Homo sapiens: one gene and its partners. The protein of the gene in region 4 purifies or fractionates together with the protein of the main gene of each other region. This does not show direct contact. Each region holds a gene or a part of one and is shown on either strand. Other genes may lie near its edges.

Evidence for each region. The genes of interacting proteins can lie anywhere in the genome.
Region 1: the proteins of PI4KB (region 4) and ARL5B purify together in Homo sapiens (affinity purification with western blotting, with the first as the bait; one study listed by BioGRID). This does not show direct contact.
Region 2: the proteins of PI4KB (region 4) and RAB11FIP3 purify together in Homo sapiens (pull-down; one study listed by IntAct). This does not show direct contact.
Region 3: the proteins of PI4KB (region 4) and ARL5A purify together in Homo sapiens (affinity purification with western blotting, with the first as the bait; one study listed by BioGRID). This does not show direct contact.

What each region holds. Positions count from the first base shown.
Region 1 is NC_000010.11:18,679,285-18,682,139, forward strand, and holds the end of ARL5B (ADP-ribosylation factor-like protein 5B), read left to right. Parts: 3' UTR 1-2,355; downstream 2,356-2,855.
Region 2 is NC_000016.10:428,649-432,148, reverse strand, and holds part of RAB11FIP3 (rab11 family-interacting protein 3), read right to left. Parts: intron 1-3,500. UniProt on the Homo sapiens protein: Downstream effector molecule for Rab11 GTPase which is involved in endocytic trafficking, cytokinesis and intracellular ciliogenesis by participating in membrane delivery. Recruited by Rab11 to endosomes where it links Rab11 to dynein motor complex.
Region 3 is NC_000002.12:151,807,922-151,811,421, forward strand, and holds part of ARL5A (ADP-ribosylation factor-like protein 5A), read right to left. Parts: intron 1-3,500. UniProt on the Homo sapiens protein: Lacks ADP-ribosylation enhancing activity.
Region 4 is NC_000001.11:151,317,417-151,320,916, forward strand, and holds part of PI4KB (phosphatidylinositol 4-kinase beta), read right to left. Parts: intron 1-3,500. UniProt on the Homo sapiens protein: Phosphorylates phosphatidylinositol (PI) in the first committed step in the production of the second messenger inositol-1,4,5,-trisphosphate (PIP). May regulate Golgi disintegration/reorganization during mitosis, possibly via its phosphorylation.

The DNA of each region.
Region 1 (2,855 bases), on a different chromosome or scaffold from region 4:
TTGGCTTGTACTAATTGAATGGAAGTGGTTAATTTGTTCAGAGTTTATTGCCGTTTGATGCCACCCCAGTCTATAGTTCTGTGTGACTTTCCATATTGAAAGAGTAGGGTTAGTAGCCAGGTTGTCAGTCTTTTACAAATGTCTACATAAATGTCTACATAAATCTGAAAGTGGTTTATATTCAAGGTTAGTTTTTCAGTAGCGTCTCCTCCTTATTCATTCACTTTTACTGTGAAGACTGAAATCCAAAAGCCAGGTTCCCCAAAAAAGTATTTTTAAAAAATTTTAGGGGACCAAAATAAATAGAGGAAGACCAATATAAAAAAATATGTTCAACTATTCCATTTTAAATTTAAAGCAGAAAAAAAAATTGTGCCCCTCAGACCTAAAGGCAGCTTTAAATGTATATAGTTTGGTGAAACATTTGGGAAATATTAATTTGGAGGTTTAGAAGCATACGAAAAACAAATTCAAAGCACTTGAAAGTAAAGACAATATCATGAGGTCGAAAAAACTTCAAAAGGATATTAGGTAAGAGAAAATGTGAATGAAAGCAGTGAATTTCTGCCTCTCCTCGTATTTAGGGTACTTAAAATTACTAAAAAATACTGTCTTTTTACCATACAGCTAGATGGCCTGTATTATTCTTAATGTGGCCAAAGGAGTGAAGACTGATTAGGGTTTTAGAATTTGGAACTGTAGTCACATAAAGGCATCTTTTGCATTTCTTAAACCAGTAATCTACATTTTCTCCTGGAAATGGAGAAATATGAAATGTGCTGTGCATAGCTTTTGGAATAGAAAACAAAGTTTTAAAAGAATGGATATGTTTTCTTGCACAACTTGTAAAATTTTAATTAAAAAATTACCTCATTTTTCAATCCATAAGGTGCTTTGCTCAAGTTTGTGGGATGTTTGTACCATCCCATAAAAACCCCCTTCACCCAAACTGTATTTGAAATATGCAAAATTCATAACTAAGGGATAGCATTCCTTGGAGACTTTGTTTTGTTTTACTCTTGTTTACCAGCTGGGCCAACATGGTAGATATATGAGATTCACATATGGTTTCATTAAAGCACATAGGAAAGTGCTCAGTCAATATTTAATTAGTTTAATTAGATAAGGGAAAGGAGAAATCCTAAATTTGATGGATTCTTTTATACTGTGAATATATTTCCATCAGTGTTGGTAAGATATCAAATGACTATCAGTTGATCCCAGTCATCAGTGACTTATTTGCATATTTAAGCCCTATTCACAAGAGACCATAATCATTTTAATCTTATATTTTCCCTCAGGAAATTTAGGGACTCTGAAGCCCCTATTTTATTCTCTTGGAGTAAACTGTTGAGTGTAGTTACAAAAACTTTTATTTATGACTTAAAAAAAGTTTAGCTGCTATTTCAGTGAAAGTGTAAAATAAAACGGTCATGATTTTTTTCAATTACAGAATAGTTACAAATTTTACCATGTTCATCTATTCCACAGAGCATGTTAAAAACAACAACAACAAAAACCTAACAGCAATTACAACCTTGGTGTTGCGTTTATTCTAATCAGAGTGAATGATTATAATCACACTTTGCTATTTTAACATAAATTGGTGCTTTAGAGCATTAAAGAGGAAGCAGCAGGCCCTGTACTCAGTATTTATTATTTCTTGCCTCAGAATGCAAAACAACTTTAAAGTGTCTATATTCATATATATGTGCATTTCTTAAGATTTAAATACAAACTGTTGTTACTCCTTAAGCTTCAGGCTTTCTGCGAAAGCTCTAAGAATATCTTCATTACTATGCTTGGTCAACTGGAAGATGGTATTAATAAGGTCAGAATTAGGAATTGGATTGCTCTGTGGGTCCTCCGGTATTGTGCAGAGGAAAGAAAAATGTCTTTCACACCACAAACTGTGTGTCTGAACCCCAGCCAAACAAATGTGTTCCATTGGTCCAATATATAAGCATTAACAACAACAACAAAAAATTTAAAACAAGTAAATTAATGCATTCACATGATCACTTCTTGAAAATGGTTCAAAGCATGTTTTCCTGATGGTGGGATTGTTTAAATGACATGTTTTAAAGTTTTTAATACTTTATTAGTTATGAAGTGCTTCTTTTATATGTTAAGTTTAGGTTGCCAGTACTCATAATTTTTATTTCTGCAATTATGTTATAATGAGTTGTTTGCATGCCTACTTAACCCAAGTAAAACGATGCTGTTTGCTCTGGAATGTTCATCTTTTAGACAGGTTTTGGCTCATTTCCAATCATGGTGCAATATAGTGTAACATTCATTTGTTTTCATTCAACAGTTTTATTTTTGTCATAATAAATAATTACTTTTCCAATACGAAGTGAATCCAGTGTTTTCTTTTAAAGGTAAATCTGCTTTAAGTTATTTGCTTGCAAATAATAGAAACCCACCTATGCCAACAAAGAGAGGATAATTGGGGTGAGGTGGTGGAGGCTCACAGAACCCACGGAACAACTGGATTTGTAGAACAGACTGAGACTAGAGACTGGACCATTTAGGAGCAAGCAGGAAGTTACCTTTTTTCCTGCTCATCTGTTTCTGTCTTTCACCTGACTGGATTTCTCTGTTTCCTGATCCACATAACAGATAATGTCCCAAGTCCAGTAGCCTCCTAAATTTGTACAAGGGAGAAGTCAGATTATTGTTAGACTTTCAATTACAATTCCATATTCCCCAGGGAAATTGTTCATTAGCCTGCATTGGGTCATTTCCTCTCTCTGATCTAAACAACTGGCCAAGTGGAAGGTGCATTTACCAGAGAAGGGGAATCCCTGGCCTGGGAAGGTGATCCGGATTGGTGTGTACTCCATTGTGGG
Region 2 (3,500 bases), on a different chromosome or scaffold from region 4:
GGCCTCCCAAAGTGTTGGGATGACAGGTGTGAGTTACCGCGCCAGGCCAGTTTCTTTTAAAACAATGAACATCTATAAAAATAATTTAGCTTCACTGGGCGCCATAGCTCATGCCTATCATCCCAGCACTTTGGGAGGCCGAGGTGGGCGGATCATGCGGTCAGGAGATCAAGACCATACTGGCTAACACGGTGAAACCTCATCTCTAATAAAAATACAAAAAAATTAGCCGGGAGGGGTGGCGGGCGCCTGTAGTCCCAGCTACTCAGGAGGCTGAGGCAGGAGAATGGCATAAACCCGGGAGGCGGAGCTTGCAGCGAGCCAAGATCACGCCACTGCACTCCAGCCTGGGTGACAGAGCGAGACTCCATCTCAAAAAAAAAAAAAAATTTAGCTTCTACCCCAATATGATCTCAATTGTGTACTTTTATAGACAGTCACCTGTGTGTCTATGTCTGTGTTAAAAAAGGTCTGGGCCAGGTGCGGTGGCTCACATCTGTAATCCCAACACTTTGGGAGGCTGAGGCAGGTGGATCACTTGAGGTCTGGTGTTCGAGACCAGCCTAGTCAACACGGCGAAACCCCGTCTCTACTAAAAATATAAAAATTAGCCAGGCGTTGCACGCCTGTAGTCCAAGCTACTCAGGAGACTCAGGCAAGACAATCGCTTGAACCCACGTGGTGGAGGTTGCAGTGAACTGAGATTGTGCCACTGCACTCCAGCATGGGCAAGAGAGCAAGACTCTATTTCAAAAAAAAAAAAAAAGTCTGAAAAGAAATGTAGTAAAATAATGGGAATGTTATTTTTCTCAGGATAGTGGGATTATTGGTCATTTTCTGTTTTATACAACCCAAGCTTCATTTGCCTTTCAGCAATTCAGTCAGCATGTAGACCCAGAATACATACACTCACCTGCTCACACACATACATAATATGCCACTTACACACAAATATCCCACTCCCACATACACACATCCCTGATCCTGCAGACACATGCTCCCACACATCTCACCGCACACACATATTACACACACACACACCAGCTCACATATGTAACTGCTCACACACACACATGCTCACTCTCATTCACACACACTTTCACTCAAATTCAAGGCTAAGAGACTGGAAATGATACAGGGCAAATAAAAGGCGATGCCAGGCTGGGCGCTACGGCTCATGCCTGCAATCCCAGAACTTTGAGAGGCTGAGGCCCGAGGACGGTCGCTTGAGCCTGGGAGTTCAATAATATGCCTGGGCAGTATCACTATACTATACTTCATCTCTACAAAAATAATTTTTAAAAATGTTTGTATTTTTAGTAGAGACGGGGTTTCACCGTCTCCTGACCTCATGATCTGCCCGCCTCAGCCTCCCAAAATGCTGGGATTACAGGCGTGAGCCACTGCACCCAGCCAATTTTTTTAAATTAGCGGAGCATGGTCATGCCTGCCTATAGTCCCAGCTACTCAGGAGGCTAAGATGAGAGGACTGCTTGAGCCCAGGAGGTGGAGGTTGCAGTGAGCTGAGATCTTGCCACTGCACTTCAGACTGGGTGACAGAGTGAGATCCTGTCTCAAAACAAACGAACAAAAAGGTGCAGTCAAATGTCCCTAGGAACTTCCTACTGCCACCATTAGCGGTGCAGGAATAAAAAAACGTAGGGAGATCTGAGCATCGACACTTCCTTCGGCAGCCTATTTCTGCAAGTACTGAAGACAGACAATGCCTACCAAGGTTACTGAAGGACATTCTCTGAAAAGAATCAGTGGCTATTAAAACGCAACTGCTTAAGTGACTGTAAAAATAACATGTAAATTACAGTTATAATCTTTAAAAACAAAACAAAATTAAAGTAATCCTTTCTCACAACACTCTTAGAATTTATTTTACAATCTCTGCTTCATGATAGGTGGCAGTAAATACAAAAGCATCAGTCCTCTCAGTATGAAGGGGTCATGTCAATCTCCAGAGATGGTTGAAGCCTTAAAAATCACCTATTCCAACTTCATACCTAATTCCTGGACACATCTGACTATAAATTCCTGTTTCAAAAAAATATAACCAGAAAGCTCCACTTGCTCCTTTCATGTGCTGATTTCTGCTAACACAACACTGTGTTATATTACACTACACCTGATCTATCACCAGATGACGTAATTAGATCCAAACACACCATGACATTGCTAAAGAAACAGGGACACAAAAGCCATCTGTATTATAAACAGGAGCTGCTTCTATTAAAAATTCAGATAATCCATTTAAATAATTTAAAATGCTACCTTCATAAACAGATTACATAGAAGATACTCAATATGCTACCTCTGAAAATTTGATAAAAATTAAGATACTTGGCCGGGCACAGTGGCTCATGCCTGTAATCCCAGCACTTTGGGAGGCCGAGGCGGGTGGATCACCTGAGGTCAAGAGTTCAAGACCAGCCTGGCCAACATGGCAAAACCGTCTCTACTAAAAATACAAAAAATAGCCAGGTGTGGTGACGGGCACCGGTAATCCCAGCTACTCGGGAGGCTGAAGCAGGAGAATCGCTTGAACCCGGGAGGCAGAGGTTGCAGTGAGCCGAGATCACACCATTGCACTCCAGCCTGGGCGACAGAGCAGGCGAGACTCCATCTCAAAAAAAAAAAAAAATTAAGATAATCTAGTTGTTATCATCAAGGACAGTAATGTGACTGGACTAAGAGTCTCTCATGTGCTCAATATTTTGAAATCTCAAGGTAGAAAGTACAAAAACTTATGACCTTTATTGCTGTTATCCAGTTAATCTGAACTGTTCCCTAGCGTTTTTAAAAAAATCATTAATGTCTTTAAAAGAATCGGTATCTTTTGGAAATATATACTGAAGCATTTATGGAAGAAATGATATAATGTCAGGAACCCACTTCAAAAATCATCTGGGGGTAGTGAGTGGTGAGTTTACAGATGAACCAAGACTGCTAAAACTGAGCAATGGCTACAGGGTTACATAACATGAAAATCAACCTTTCTTTACCCTGTAAATTATCTGTTGCCAAACAGTAACTTAGCTTTAAGAAATCAAGAGCTCTCCTCCATCCCAGGAAGCCGGCCCAAGTCCAGGCACTCAGATCACACCCAACATTGCTTCTTCCTAAGCCGTCTAGAAGAACAGACAAGGAGTAATACCACAGGAGATCCCTTCCACTTCCCCATCCTCACCAAATCCCAAGTCATCCAGCCCTTGCCCCCAACCTTCGAATTTCATCAAGAGCTCTTGGAATTCAGAGTGAAGAATTTTGTCTCATTTCTACTTTGTGATGACAAGAAAGCTCAGCCCCAAATAGCAACACAAAGTTTTTCCCATTGTGATCATTAAGGGAGGTTATGACAAAAGATGTTTCTCAAATAAAAAGAATTGTATGAAAGTCAGTAAGATATTATCACAATAGGGATATTGTGAGCCACCACATCTAAGAAGAGGCATCTAAGGTCTAAGGGCCAAAAGACCTAGTTCTACTCCTGT
Region 3 (3,500 bases), on a different chromosome or scaffold from region 4:
GGTATAATGTTTTACTCACTAAACAGGCCAAAAGTTCTTAGTCTCTTCCTGCCCCACTCCTCTCTACCTGCCAGTTTTAAAGCCAGGGACTTCCTTGATAATCTGTTCAAAATCACAGATCTTTCCCCCCAAAACACACATATGCATATACACAAAATTTTTTTAAGTTTATGTACAATTTGAGGGTGTTAATAAATAGCCTAAATTCCCTACATGGATACTGGGCCAAGAATCCATGAAGGATGTACTCAATTAGCAAGTGAAACCCTCATAAAATTCTGCCTGTTACATATTAAGAGATATAAAATTAAGGTTTTGGTGCCACACTTGCAAGTTTTCACAACTGTTGAATGGCATTTGTCTTCTTAGGGATTTTACTGAGATATTTTGGTTTCAATAATGTATGTGTTTGAATAAATAAAATCTTCAGCAGATACAAAATGACTTTTGTTAGAATACAGTTTTGATGATTCTTTCTGATGCAAATAAAAACATTAGTAGTATATTTGTATTTCTTATTTGGTTAAAGGAGTTATGTAAAATATTTATATAACAATCAAGACTGACTTTAATTACAGTGCCCTCTGCAGGATGGCAGCTATTAATGCTACCACAGTTTATATAGTTATCTCATTAAGTATGGTCAGAAAGGAATACTGCTACAATGTTTGCAATTTTAAGATTTCATGTTCAACTAGTTTCACCTATATTTCAGTTCACCTGCCTATATCAAAGGCAAAAAACTTGAAGAGATAAAGTATAACTTGTATACATATAGTCATTATCAAGGATATACAGTAAATATTTTTTCTTTTCTCCTAAACAGAAAATGAAACCATTCATCAGCCAGGTGTGGTGGCTCACACCTGTAATCCCAGCACTTTGGAAGGCCGAGGTGGGTGGATCTCTTGAAGCCAGGAGTTTGAAACCAGCCTGGCCAACAGGGCGAAACCCCGTTTCAACTGAAAATATAAAAATCAGCAAGGTGTAGTGGTGCACACCTGTACTCTCAGCTACTTGGGAGGCTGAGGGATGAGAATAGCTTGAACCCAAGAGGTGGAGGTTGCAGCGAGCAAAGATAGCGCCACTGCACTCCAGCCTGGGCAACAGAGTGAAACTCTGTCTCAAAAAAACACAAAGAAACCATTATCAATAGTTGTTATGTGGCTGAGTCAATAAGTAGATGGACTTTCCATGGGATTTAATTCCTAACTTCCTATCTTCTCAGTTTCAGTACATCTTGCTAGTGTGTGCTGAAGTCTTATATAGGTCAAGTTTGCTAATGTTGACATGTTGAAGGAACAACCTTCTGACAAATACTTGGCACAAGTTAGGACACACGGTTTATATTATTATAAGTAATCTGTATTCACTCTTAATGATGAAATTATTTGTAGAAGCCCCTGAACTGAAAATTGAAAAACACAAAAAACAAAGCCATTTAATAAAAGGTCTCCAAATATCTTAAATCAGTTTTTCTAGATCTAAAAGGTTCAAACTTTAATTTAGAGTTCTTGACTTCTAAGAAGTTATTTTATCAATTTTTACATATTTAGAAAGAGAAGAAAATCTTCATTTGCTTTTTATTATATAACCTCAAAACCAAATATGTATATATTAGAACAGTAGAAAATAGATATATTAAATTAAGGCTGTTCATCAACGTGACTTAACAAGAGGTCAAAGTATAAGGTGAACAACGGTGATCTTTTGTACATAAACCATTTCAAACACTTTAAAACCACTTCTGCTACAAATTTCTAGTCTAAGATATATTTTAGTTTTATCAAGGAGATGAATAACAGCAATTGCAAGACACATTTACTTAGCATCTTCTATATACCATATATAGTTGTCAATTTGTTTCTTAAAACTTCATTTGGGGACTGGGCGCTCACGCCTGTAATCCCAGCACTTTGGGAGGCTGAGGCGGGCAGATCACCTGAGGTCAGGAGTTCGAGACCAGCCTGGCCAACATGGTAAAACCCCGTCTCTACTAAAAATATAAAAAAATTAGCTGGCGTGGTGGTGGGCGCCTGTAATCTCAGCTACTCTGGAGGCTGAGGCAGGAGAATTGCTTGAACCCAGAAGATGGAGGTTGCAGTGAGCCGATACGGTGCCACTGCACTCCAGCCTGGGCAACAGAGTAAGACTCTGTATCAAAACAACAACAACAAAAAAAAAAACTTCATTTGTGAAGGTAACTCCTAGAAGTTGAGTCATTCTGAATAAAATTTCAGACTTTGGTGTTTGGAACCATTTTAAAATTAATGAGTTCTAAAGTTGTATACTTCATTTATGATAAAACTTTGAAAATTATTTTAAAATTTTTACAGTTTTGTATTTTGTAATAATGTAAAGAGTCATTATCAGTGATGACAATAAGATTTTGTTGATTTATGTAGTATGTAAGAAACATCCAACTAACATCATGTCTACATTTATTTTTCACTCACACATTCTCACTCTTTGATCCATTTGTCTCTCTGCAGAATTTTGCCTGTTTGGCTCTTCTTGACCCTACTGAGTACCTTGCTCAAACTCCCAACTTCATCTGTAATTCCTTTCTTCTCTGGTCATCTCCTCATTCAGTCTCCTTTCACTTTCCAACTAGGCCCTACTTAGGTCTTCTTTTTACTTCTGCTAATAAAGAGTCTGAATGAGAATACTCAAGTTCAAAACCTGGCTCTTAAAAAGCTAGTCAAGTCACATAACCTTTCTGGGCCCCAGTGTAGTCACCCATAACAGATAACGTTAAGTGACCTATGTAAGTTAATGCCCCCAGCTAGTAAAAATCAAAGACTTTGAACCCTACTACTGGGCTCTTCATATAGTGATCCTGCTGCATATTGGCCAATTAGAGTAAAAATCAGATAGGGAGACTACCTGTCAACAAAGTAAAAGATATAGTCCAGAGACAAATAACATTTGTATCAGTTTTTCTTTTTCCAAAGTCTTCATAAAACCACCCTTTGGAATAAACTGAAAAATGCTGCATTTTTGCAAAATAGGAATTTGAAAAGAAAAAAAAACAAACAAAAAAAAGCCTTTGTCTTCTGCCTCTTTTACGGCTTATTGCTTGTATCCCAACTAGCAATGAATCTGGCGAATGAACACAGAATGGCAAGACGTATTTCTGTAAATCTCCAGGAGGTTTAAACACAGCTGCTGGAATTAGAGTCCAAAATAGGAAAAGGTGCATCTTGGTGGTCATAAGGAAATGAGGAACCTCAATTTACAAAACTACTTTACTAGCTTAGGTTCCCTAAAGCCCTGAAAGGTTGCCTGAAATACACAAAATTCTTAAAGCAAATCTCAAAAGCAAATCATCAAATCAATAACAAAATTAACATAAAACTTCACTACAAAGATATCCGTGTTTTCCTAAGCTTTGCAAAAAATTCCACTGAAATAAAAAACTCTATATATCTAAATATTAACTTTTCTATTCCTATCTATAAATGAGTTGAGAAAGTAGCATCTGCAATAAGATATCCAAA
Region 4 (3,500 bases):
AGCAATCCTCCTACCTCAGCTTCCCAAGTATCCAGGACTACACGCATGTGCCTCCATGCCTGGTTAATTTTTTAAATTTTTCTGTAGAGACAAGGTCTCACCATGTTGCCCAGCCTGGTCTTGAACTGAGCTCAAGCAATCCTCCCTCCTCAGCCTCGTAAAGTGTTGGAATTACAGGCATGAGCCACCATGCCTGGTGATTTACAGATTCTTCGGGTAGACTGAGAAGCAAGTCAGGTGTTACTCCCTTGTTCCCTAACTCTTCAAATACTTTTCTATCCACTTGCTCTTCCTGTCTCCCTTTAAATGCCTGCTATAACCTTTTTATTTTCCACTTTAGACTATATTTCCTTACTCATATAACATTCTACACACAGGTCCTGTGCATCTCACCTTTATTTTTATTTTTTAGAGACAAGTCTTGCTCTGTTGCCCAGGCTGGAGTGCAGTGGCATGATCATAGCTCACTGTAACCTTGAACTCCTAGGCTCAAGGCATCCTCCTGCCTCAGCCTCCCGAGTAGCTAGGACTTTAGGTGTGTGCCATCATGCTCAGCTAATTAAAAAAAAATTTTTTTGTGCAGATGGCGTCTTGCTGTGTTGCCCAGGCTAGCTTTGAACGCCTGGCCTCAAGCAATTCTCCTGCCTCAGCCTCCCAAAGCACTAGGATTACAGGTGTGAACCACCTTGCCCAGCCATCTTTATTTAATATTAAAGTCTTGGCTAGGCGCAGTGGCTCACGCCTGTAATCCCAGCACTTTGGGAGGCCGAGGTGGGCAGATCACGAGGTCAAGAGATCGAGACCATCCTGGCCAACATGGTGAAACCCCGTCTCTACTAAAAATACAAAAATTAGCCAGGCGTGGTGGCAGGCGCCTGTAATCCCAGCTACTCAGGAGGCTGAGGCCGGAGAATTGCTTGAACCTGGGAGGTGGAGGTTGCAGTGAGCCGAGATTACGCCATTGCACTCCAGCCTGGAGACAGAGTGAGACTCTGTCTCAAAAAAAAAAAAAAAGGCCGGGCGCGGTGGCTCACGCCTGTAATCCCAGCACTTTGGGAGGCTGAGGCAGGCGGATTACCTGAGGTCAGGAGTTCGAGACCAGCCTGACCAACATGGAGAAACCTCGTCTCTACTAAAAATACAAAATTAGCTGGGCGTGGTGGCGCATGCCTGTAATCCCAGCTACTTGGGAGGCTGAGGCAGGAGAATCGCTTGAACCCGGGAGGCAGAGGTTGTGGTGAGCCGAGATCGCACCGCTGCACTCCAGCCTGGGCAACAGAGCGAAACTCTGTCTCAAATAAATAAATAAATAAATAAATAAATAAAATTAAAGTCTTGATATATTTTTCTGGTTACAGGTATTTTTTTACCTTCCCTTTTAAACTCGAAGTTCCCAGAAAATAAAGGCCAGTAAATACCATGCCAGGCTTCACTTAGAAGAAGGCAGCTCTAAAACAACCATCATCAACCCTGCTGAAGCTGTGCCGTTTCTCTGGTTGTCTGACATCATGACATCACACCCTCTTTCTCCAGTGCCGTGGCTGCTAACATATAATGGAAAGAGCTCTGGACTTGAAGGCAAATAGGCTGGGGTTGAAAATCCTCATTCAGCCTTTCAGAAATGTGCAACTTATGCAAGCCATTTATCCTCAACTGCAAATTGGGAAAAAACACTTCCTTCTCATTGTTGCTATGTGGAACAAATACCATCACGTGTATGAAAGAATCTAGCACAGTCTTTGATACATAGTAGTACTCAATATATGCTAGTTGAGGCCGGGCACAGTGACTCATGCCTGTAATCCCAGTGCACTGGGTGGCTGAGGCAGGTGGATCACTTTGAGGTCAGCAGTTCAAGACCAGCGAGACTCTGTCTCAAAAAAAAAAAAAAGAAATGCTAGTTGAATCCTCATCACCTAAAAGGTTACTAACCAGTGTGTGTGTAACATAAAACTTATATTATTTTATAAGGGAAGCAAAGAGTTCCAATTGTTTGAGAATCTTCCAGAAATACTTATGACAGCCTTTTCTGCCCCAATACCACTCCCCCCACTGTCATACACACATTCTAACAACTGGAGGGACAATTGAAAAGGCAAAAAGAAATCAGACTAGGACTCATAGATCTAGGCCTTCCAAAGAACAGGGAGGAACAGGAGTCACAAAACAAAGAACACCTCCTCTGGAGGGACTGTTGGAAGGAAGTTCAATGAAAGAACACTGCTGACCAAAGCCACTGCTCTCCAAGAACAATCCTTCAGAGCCTCACCAAATCTGGAATCAGTGCAGAACTGGGGAAATTTCATCAGATCAACCTGGCTCCAGAATCTGACTATAGCTAACAAAGGACTCAGACTCAGAGGCCTCTTCACAAAAATGCTAATAGAGTGAGTCTAAGACACACTCAAGAGCATGAGCAAGAGGAAAGATTTTGTAGAGTTGGAATACAGGTAATTTCAAAATATTAGTGACATCACCTTCAACCCCGGTGACCCTGGATGCATATACTTTGGGTAGGTGGAATAAGGAGGCCTAGAGATTCTTTAGTCCCTCTGGGAGGCTGTTTTCCACCACCACCCTTCCAGTGTCTGTTCTTGTACGTCTGAAATGTTAAGGTTACTTTTTTTTTCTTTTTGAGACGGAGTCTCGCTCTGTCGCCCAGGCTGGAGTGCAGTGGTGCAATCTTGGCTCACTGCAAGCTCCGCTTCCCGGGTTCATGCCATTCTCCTGCCTCAGGCTCACAAGTAGTTGGGACTACAGATGCCCGCCACCACGCCCGGCTAATTTTTTGTATTTTTAGTAGAGGCAGGGTTTCACCATGTTAGCCAGGATGGTCTCGATTTCCTGACCTCGTGATCTGCCCACCTCGGCCTCCCAAAGTGCTGGGATTACAGGTGTGAGCTGCCGCGCCCGGCCCCAGGTTACTTTTAACTGCCCAATATCATATAGTCCAGCTCCCTGCCTCCCAGCAGTCACCACTAAAGTTTTGCAGAAAGACGGATGGGGAACTCTTCTGTTCTCAGAGATCACCAAAAAAGGCTATTTCTGTTTCTTTCTGCCAACTCTGCCAAGCAAGTTCATTCCTGAATTTAATATCCCTGATGCAGATTGAGCTTGGTATTGGTAAGAAGGTGGCAACTCTTTCACTATGCTCTCTCCCAAAATTAGGTAGTGCCCTCTGAGCAGTAGAACCAGCATGGCTGCCTATGTGGATCTGTCCCTACTCGCAACTGTGAGTTGCACAGGAATAATAAGAAGGAAGCTTTAATCATTCCCTGCCACACCTTCGTAGGGCACTCTCATCAGAGGGTCACCGATTCAACGGGGACCACTACCTTTTAGGTCTGCTTAGAAACTCATGTGATAGCCTCAATCATCTTAAACAATCAACTTCTTTTTCTCAGTCTCTATGTTTGGTACATCCTTTCCTCTCCCTCTAGTCCACAGACTTTTAAGTCACTGAAAGCTCCTAGAAGTACACTTTTCAAAACTTTCAAGGG